Homo sapiens: one gene and its partner. The protein of the gene in region 2 purifies or fractionates together with the protein of the main gene of each other region. This does not show direct contact. Each region holds a gene or a part of one and is shown on either strand. Other genes may lie near its edges. The genes, in order: INTS12 and KDELR3.

Region 1 (3,822 bases), on a different chromosome or scaffold from region 2:
TGAAAACTGATCAAGAGAAATGAACTCTAGCTAGAAACCTAAGGGCAGCGTGCTTTTTAATCACAACAAATTTTTCATGTTCTTTAAGAGATAAACTTCCATTTTAGAACCCCATTAAAACAATTTTTTTTCTTTAGTAATAATAGGTTTCCCTATCTGGACAATACCAACACCCACAGTGGAATGAATTTGGTAGTATGTTTTGTAGAGCCATATTGATTTGGTCGATCTGAACTCACTGAACCTACTGCAATGAGAATGGATAGAAGAAATGAAGTCACAATGGTTCTGCTATTCAAAATACAATAAAAAGGCTTCGGAGTACTAGACCTAGTATTGAAAGAAGGCTGGGGACAAAATGCCAGTGTTTACTTGGGCTCTGAGCCTGGGACTAGATCCTCTCTTGAGCTTCAGATTCTGGTTAGACTTGAGCTAGTCATGTTCTATTTTCTCCTTCTCAGTTTGGGATCTAAGTCCACAGACCTGAGTGATTTGGAGTTTGAGGGTCAGAGCTTAGAAGGATTTGATAGAATGTCTTAGTAGGTATTAGGGAATATAATAAGAGTTGTCATTCAGTGACAGCCTATTATGTACCAGGCAGGTACTACACTAGGTAACTCATTTACTGGATCTCCTTCAATTTTTACAACTCTGCAAAGTAGTTCTTATTATCCCCATTTTACCAATAAACAGACTAAGTGAAATGAAGTTTCTATGTACCTCAGTTTCCTTATGTAAAATGAAGAAAACAGTTATCTATCTTAAAGGATCATTATCATAATTAAAATTAATTATTCACATAAACTACTCAGAAAAGTGCCTGGGACATCAAGATACGTTGTCTATTATCATCACACAATTATAAGATTTAAGTGGGATTTAAAACAGGTGTGTTTGGTATCAAAACATATATTCTTTTCACATAAAGCTGCCATTGGCTGCTTTGTTATTATCAAGACAGGAGCTACACAGTTCTCAGAGTTCATCCATACCTCCTTTTCTCTTAAATTATCCTACCCATATTCAATTTATTTTGTTGAAAGATCTGTCCTTTTACTTGATTTTTTTTAATCCTTAAAATATTAGGCAATAATTAGAAGTAAGTTGTGGTTACATTCAGCAGCTTAAAAAAAATTCTGATCACAAAGAATCGGAAATTAAAGTAAGTCGTAAACAAGTGAATTCATATACACATAAAGTAGTAGAACAGAATATCCTGCACCCCCAGCTGATTTTTCTATGTGGTGTAACAGTTCTCTGAAAACTTGAAGGGAAAAAAGAAAATAAAGAATATAATTTCTTCATGCTACAAGGAAAGATTATTTCGGCAGAGATTGTTTTGAGATGGTCTATATGTTATCAATGTAGTACTACAGGCCTTACAAAACTCTCTCCAAGCTTTTTATTCATTCAAGTACCTTTTGAGATGGACGGTAACTGGAATCAATGCCCCGAGCCAAAGATTCATCAAGCAGTGCTTTTAGCTTTTCAGCAGAATCTTTACTCTTTGAATGCAAGAAACCTAGTGCTTTCAAAAAAATGGGATCAAGTTCCAAGTTCACAGTAGCAGCCATTGCAAACGCCTGAAGGAAAAAAAGAGAAAGTAATCTAGAAGACAATGCACAATTATCTATGTTAAAGTTTTACTTTTCTGTTTTTTAATTTGTAATAGATAATACTGTACACATGATATAAAATTTAAAATCACCAAAAAGTTATTACAAATAAAAGTAAATTTCCTTCTTATTCCTGACAGGCATTATCTAGTTCCTTCCCCCTGAAACAACTAGCAGTATCAGTTTTCTGTGTATCCATATCGATGGTAACGTTTTAAATCCAGGTAGGCCTCTCCCTGCCACAGAACTCCTTCCTAACTGTGTTTTAAAAGATACACTTCGCAGTTTCAGTACATAGAACTTGATGGGTTTACGTCAAGTTTACTCTGTATCAAAATTTCTTCTCTCAAACCTTATTTCCATAACACAAGGGAAGACTTAGTGTGCAGGTGTTTGTGTGTGTAAGGGCTATCGTAAGAGGGCAATGGTGAAAAGGTATATTAAGTGATTAGCTATCATGGTCACTGCTGCCACTTTTACCTCAACTCTTTTTTTTTTTTTTTCTAAACTCACCTCTTCAGTTCTCTGCCCCAACCCTAAATGTCTCAGAAAACATATTAATGATAACCTTATTTGATCACATTTAGATTGTGGTATCTCATGCATTAACCTATTTTTAAAAGTAAGGTCTCTGAGGGATAATATCATATCTACTTAAAACACACACACACACACACACACACACACACACACACACAGAGCCTATGATGCTTTGTGTCCTAAAGAGCTTAAAAAATAGCCAAGATGGATAAAGATATACATCAAAGGCTTATGAAATTCCACAATACTAAAAAGTTTTGTTTTTAGTTAATACCAATGCTATCATGTGGTTCTGCTTCTGGTTGTCACTTTTTCAAAGACCTCTCCAGGCAAGAAATTATCAAAATAAAAATGTATTCTTTGTGTTCAATCCTTTGATCAATATACTATGGCTTGAAATCTTCTATCCTTGAGGTTAATATTGTATTAATGCAGCACACTTGCATTGCTATAGTTAGGGAACTGTCAGCAATTCCACAGTTATCTCCCATTTTCAGGGGTTTATAACACCATTAAAACTTGCTGTAGGTTGAATCCTAGCATATGAAAGCACATCTGAAAATGGATTTTGTTGTCCCCTCCCCTCCAGCTTCACTCCTCATCCTTCTCCACATCTGACAAGAAACACACATACACATCCCTAGGCTTTTTTTTTTTTTTTTTTAAGTTCCCAGGAAGGTATTAGTTATCTACCTGATAACTACAAAATTACTGTCGAATTCTGTACTGTACTAAAATATCATCTGAATCACCCATGGAAAGGAATCCAAAGGCCAGTACTATAATGAAAAAGTAACCTTATCTCAAACTGTTGTATTTCTAAGAATTTAACAAAATTGAAAAGCAGCCTCTGTCACTTCTTAAAATTATATTATTATATACATCACCTCTACATAATGATAGGTACAGAAAAATTATTTTAAAATTTACTCATGGGGCTGGTCACCATGTACGTTCTGAGGAAAAAATAGCTCCTTAATAAAATTTCCAAGATTAAAAGGGTAAACCTGCCATTCCCCCAGCATATACAAGGGTAACAGCCTAATCTCTTTTTTTTCTTTAAATTCCACTCCTGTGACAGTTTACTAATCTTTCTACTGATTTTATTTCATATAGGTAAAGGAAATAGCAGTTTACTTATCCAGATTGTTATAAAACAATTTATTTTATTGGGTGCTGACCAAAGGGTTGACACCTAAAAGAACCCTTGTAATATATTAGAAAAACCATTTCTTGAAATTTCTATGCTGAAAAATGAAAGCCAAGTATTTATTGCTATGTATTTCTACAATCACAGGTAAGAGGTTTACATTACAGATTAGGTGACAAGAGTCAGCACCTAGATTACAAGACTGCGGAAGTCATCAACACCAACATTCCAGTTGGAACCTTGGAGTCAGTTCTTTTTATGCAATCTTGCCATTATAAAACTTAACAGGCTTTGTACCCCTCCCCTAAATTACTAACATGGCCCTTTGACCCAGTGGTCCCCATGGTGGAATACAGAGAAAAAAATATTAACTTTTTAATTTATTTCTATTTCTTTTTTTTTTTTTTTTTTTTTTTGAGACAGAGTCTCGCTCTGTCGCCCAGGCTGGAGTGCAGTGGCATGATCTCGGCTCATGGCAAGCTCCGCCTCACGGGTTCATGCCATTCTCCTGCCTCA
Region 2 (3,822 bases):
CTGGGCACAGTGGCTCACACCTGTAATCCCAGCACTTTGGGATGCCAAGGCGGGTAGATCACATGAGGTCAGGAGTTCAAGACCAGCCTGGCACGTGGCGAAACCCCGTCTCCACTAAAAATACAAAAAAATTATCTGAGTATGGTGGCAGGTGCCTGTAATCCCAGCTACTCATGAGGCTGAGGCAGGAGAATCGCTTGAACCTGGGAGGCGGAGGTTGCAGTGAGCTGAGATTGCACCATTGCACTCCAGCCTGGGCAACAAGAGCAGAACTCTGTCTCAAACAAACAAACAAGCAAAACAAAACTGAAGATCACAAGGGTTCCCAAAGTGCTAAGGAAAATGTGAGTAAAACCCAGGGGACTGGCAGGCTGAGGATGAAGAGAAAAGAGGGGTAGGGGAAGGCCCAAGCGGGTGACCAAGCGTCCCCCACCAGGGCTGCCTCCCAGGCAGTCCTTCGTGGGGCTGAGGGCTTCTCTGTCAAAGTCTGTGTGAGGGCTCAGTGAGATGAACATCAGGCCATCCCAGAGCTGGCCTCAGGTCAGTATGGCCTCCCCCAGTGGGGTTCATTACCCACTGCCAGCCCCACTGTTGCCCTCACCCCGGCTAGTGCACGTGCGCGCGTGCTAGACCCCCCAGAGGGACTCAGGTTCTCACTGAGCACTGTGTATTCCTCAGCTCAGTCCTGCCACTCTGCATGAGGGGCCGTTTGGCAGGTGAGGAATGTGAGACCGAGGCTCGCCCTAAAGCCAGCACATTCTCCAGAATGTTAGGGACTTCAGGGGTGTTCCTTCTTGCTCATTAAAAATGTTCCCCCAGGCTGGGTGCAGTGGCTTACCCATGTAATCCCAGCACTTTGGGAAGCTGAGGCAGGAGGATCACCTGAGCCCAGGAATTTGAGACCAGCTTGGGCAACATGGCAAAATCTTGTCTCTAGAAAAAATATAAAAATTAGCTGGGCATGGTAGCATGTGCCTGTAGTCCCAGCTACTCAGGAGGCTAAGGTAGGGGGGTCATCCGAGCCTGGGAGGTTGAGGCTGCAGTGATCTGTGATTGTGTCACTGCACTCCAGCCTGGGTGACAGAGTGAGACCCTGCCTCACAAAAAAAGAAAAAAAAATGTTCTCCCACCCCAAATGTCTGGAACCAGAGGGATGGTTAGAGAAGGCACAGTTCAGGGGTACAGGGGAACCAGACCCTGAATTAGACAGCACAGTAGTTCCCCCTTATCCACGGAGGATATGTTCCAAGACTGCCAGTGGATGCCTGAAACCACGGGTTAAACCAAACCCTATATATATACTGTTTCTTCCATCTGATAACCAAGACTGCTGTCCGGGCACAGTGGCTTACGCCTGTAATCCCAGCACTTTGGGAGGCCGAAGTGGGCAGTCACTTGAGGTCAGGAGTTCGAGACCAGCCTGGCCAACACGGTGAAAACCCATCTCTACTAAAAACACAAAAATTAGCCGGGCATGATGGTGGGCGCCTGTAATCCCAGCCACCCGGGAGGCTGAGGCAGGAGAATGACTTGAACCCGGGAGGCAGACGTTGCAGTGAGTCGAGATCGCACCACTGCACTCCAGCCTGGGTGACAGAGTGAGACTCTGTCTCAAAAAATAAATAAATAAATAAAAAGTGGCCAAAGGACACTAAGGAGCATGACAACAAAATGCAGCATGGATTCCGGGATGGAATCCAGGAATGGAAAAAGGGCAGCAGTGGGAAAACTGGTGAAATCAGAATAAAGCCTGGAGTTCAGTCAACAGTGCTCTACTGATGTTGATTTCTTTGTTTTGATAAAGTACTGTCACTAAATACGATGTTTTTTTGTTTTGTTTTGTTTTGTTTTTTAAGACAGAGTTTTGCTCTTGTTGCCCAGGCTGGAGTGCAATGGCACGATCTCGGCTCACTGCAACCTCCACCTCCTGGGTTCAAGCGATTCTCCTGCCTCAGCCTCCCAAGTAGCTGGGGTTACAGGCATGAGCCACCACACCTGGCTAATTTTGTATTTTTTAGTGGAGATGGGGTTTCTCCAAGTTGGTCAGGCTTGGTCTCAAACTCCCAACCTCAGGTGATCTGCCCGCCTCGGCCTCCCAAAGTGTTGGATTACAGGCATGAGCCACCGCCCCCGGCCCAAATACGATGTTAACACTAGATATAGCTGGATATGTGGGATTCTCTGTACTGTCTTTACAACTCTGTTGTAAATCTAACATTCTTTCAAAATAAAAAGTTAAAAAAAGAAAGAGACCAAAGTGGGTCAAGAAACAGCATTTAGACTGGGCGCGGTGGCTCACGCCTATAATCCCAACACTGAGAGAATGAGGTAGGAGGATCACTTGGGCCCAGGAGTTTGAGACCAGGCTGGGCGACATAGTGAAACTCTGTCTCTACAAAAATAATAATAATAATAATTAATAATAAAATTTGCCAGTCTGATGGTTTGTGTCTGTAGTTACCAGCTACTCGGGAGGCTGAGATAGGAGAATTGTTTGAGTCCAGGAGATAGAGGCTGCAGTGAGCTATGATTGCACCACTGCACCCCAGCCTGGGAGACAGAGTAAGACCCTTTCTCTAAAAAGAAAAAAATAAAAAAGAAAGAAACATCATGGAGAGTATGAACCCTTTTTTGTCAACTCAGTGCATCCATGTGCATCATATGTGTACACATAGGTGTCATGTGTGTACATGTTCACAAAGATATGGAAGGATGAACACTAGGGGTTTGGAATATTTTTATCTTTGCATCTTTGTATATTGTTTGATTTTTGTTTTGCAAAGAGTAAATATAGGCATAACTTTTGTAACTAGAAAAAAGGCTTTTTGGCTGGGCGTGGTGGGTCATGCCTGTAATCCCAGCACTTTGGGAGGCCAAGGCGGGCAGATCACTTGAAGTCAGAAGTTTGAGACCAGCCATGACCAACCTGGCGAAACTCCGTCTCTACTAAAAATTCAAAAATTAGCCAGGCGTGGTGGCAGGCACCTGTAATCCCAGCTACTTCGGAGGCTGAGGCAGGAGAATCACTTGAACCCAGGAGGCAGAGGTTGTGGTGAGCCGAGATCACGCCACTGCACTCCAGCCTGGGCAACAGAGTGAGACTCCATCTCAAAAAAAGAAAAAAGAAAAAAGAAAAAAGGCTTTTTAAATCTTACAGTTTGAAAAATAAAATAGAATGCTCCCCTGGCCCTGAACCTTCCTCTGCCTGCTCTGGTCTCCCTGGTGAATCAACACCTTGTAAAGTCAGTGAGTTGTTCCTCCTAAGACTGAGCTTTGGGGACTGTCAGTGGAACTCTGGGGGTGGAGTGAAGAGAAGCCTCAACAACCCCCACCAAGCCCGACTCACACCACCCCCGACATCCTCCCCAGAGCAAGAGCCCAGGCAGGCACACGCAGGGGGACTGGGAACTCGGTGTTCGTGTCTTTATTTGGAGACTGGGAGACAGATTACAGTTTAATGAGAGGAACGACGACTCAAGTGATCCGATGGGAAGGGTGAGTTTCCTGGCCCTTAGGGAGCGACAGTGCCCTGGACAGGAGGTCTTTGAGTGGGAGTGGACACTCTAGAGGCCTCCCCAGCTCCAGGCTGTGCACCTCTTGAGGGTGGGCAGGCTTGGGAGTCTGTGTCCTCATTGTCTCCTGTCTACCCTTGGCCACAGGCATCTCTGGGAAGAGCCAGATCCTGTTTGCTCTCGTCTTCACCACCAGGTACCTGGACCTGTTCACCAACTTCATCTCCATCTACAACACAGTAATGAAGGTGAGGGGCTGGGTGATGATGGTTGGGGGAAGCCACCAAGCCCCCACAAACTGTGAGGTAGC

The links.
Region 1: the proteins of KDELR3 (region 2) and INTS12 purify together in Homo sapiens (affinity purification with mass spectrometry; one large-scale study listed by BioGRID and IntAct). This does not show direct contact.

What each region holds. Positions count from the first base shown.
Region 1 is NC_000004.12:105,698,432-105,702,253, forward strand, and holds part of INTS12 (integrator complex subunit 12), read right to left. Parts: intron 1,841-3,822; exon of another isoform or gene 1,584-1,840; 5' UTR 1,575-1,583; coding exon 1,419-1,574; intron 1-1,418. UniProt on the Homo sapiens protein: Component of the integrator complex, a multiprotein complex that terminates RNA polymerase II (Pol II) transcription in the promoter-proximal region of genes.
Region 2 is NC_000022.11:38,470,864-38,474,685, forward strand, and holds part of KDELR3 (ER lumen protein-retaining receptor 3), read left to right. Parts: intron 1-3,659; coding exon 3,660-3,760; intron 3,761-3,822.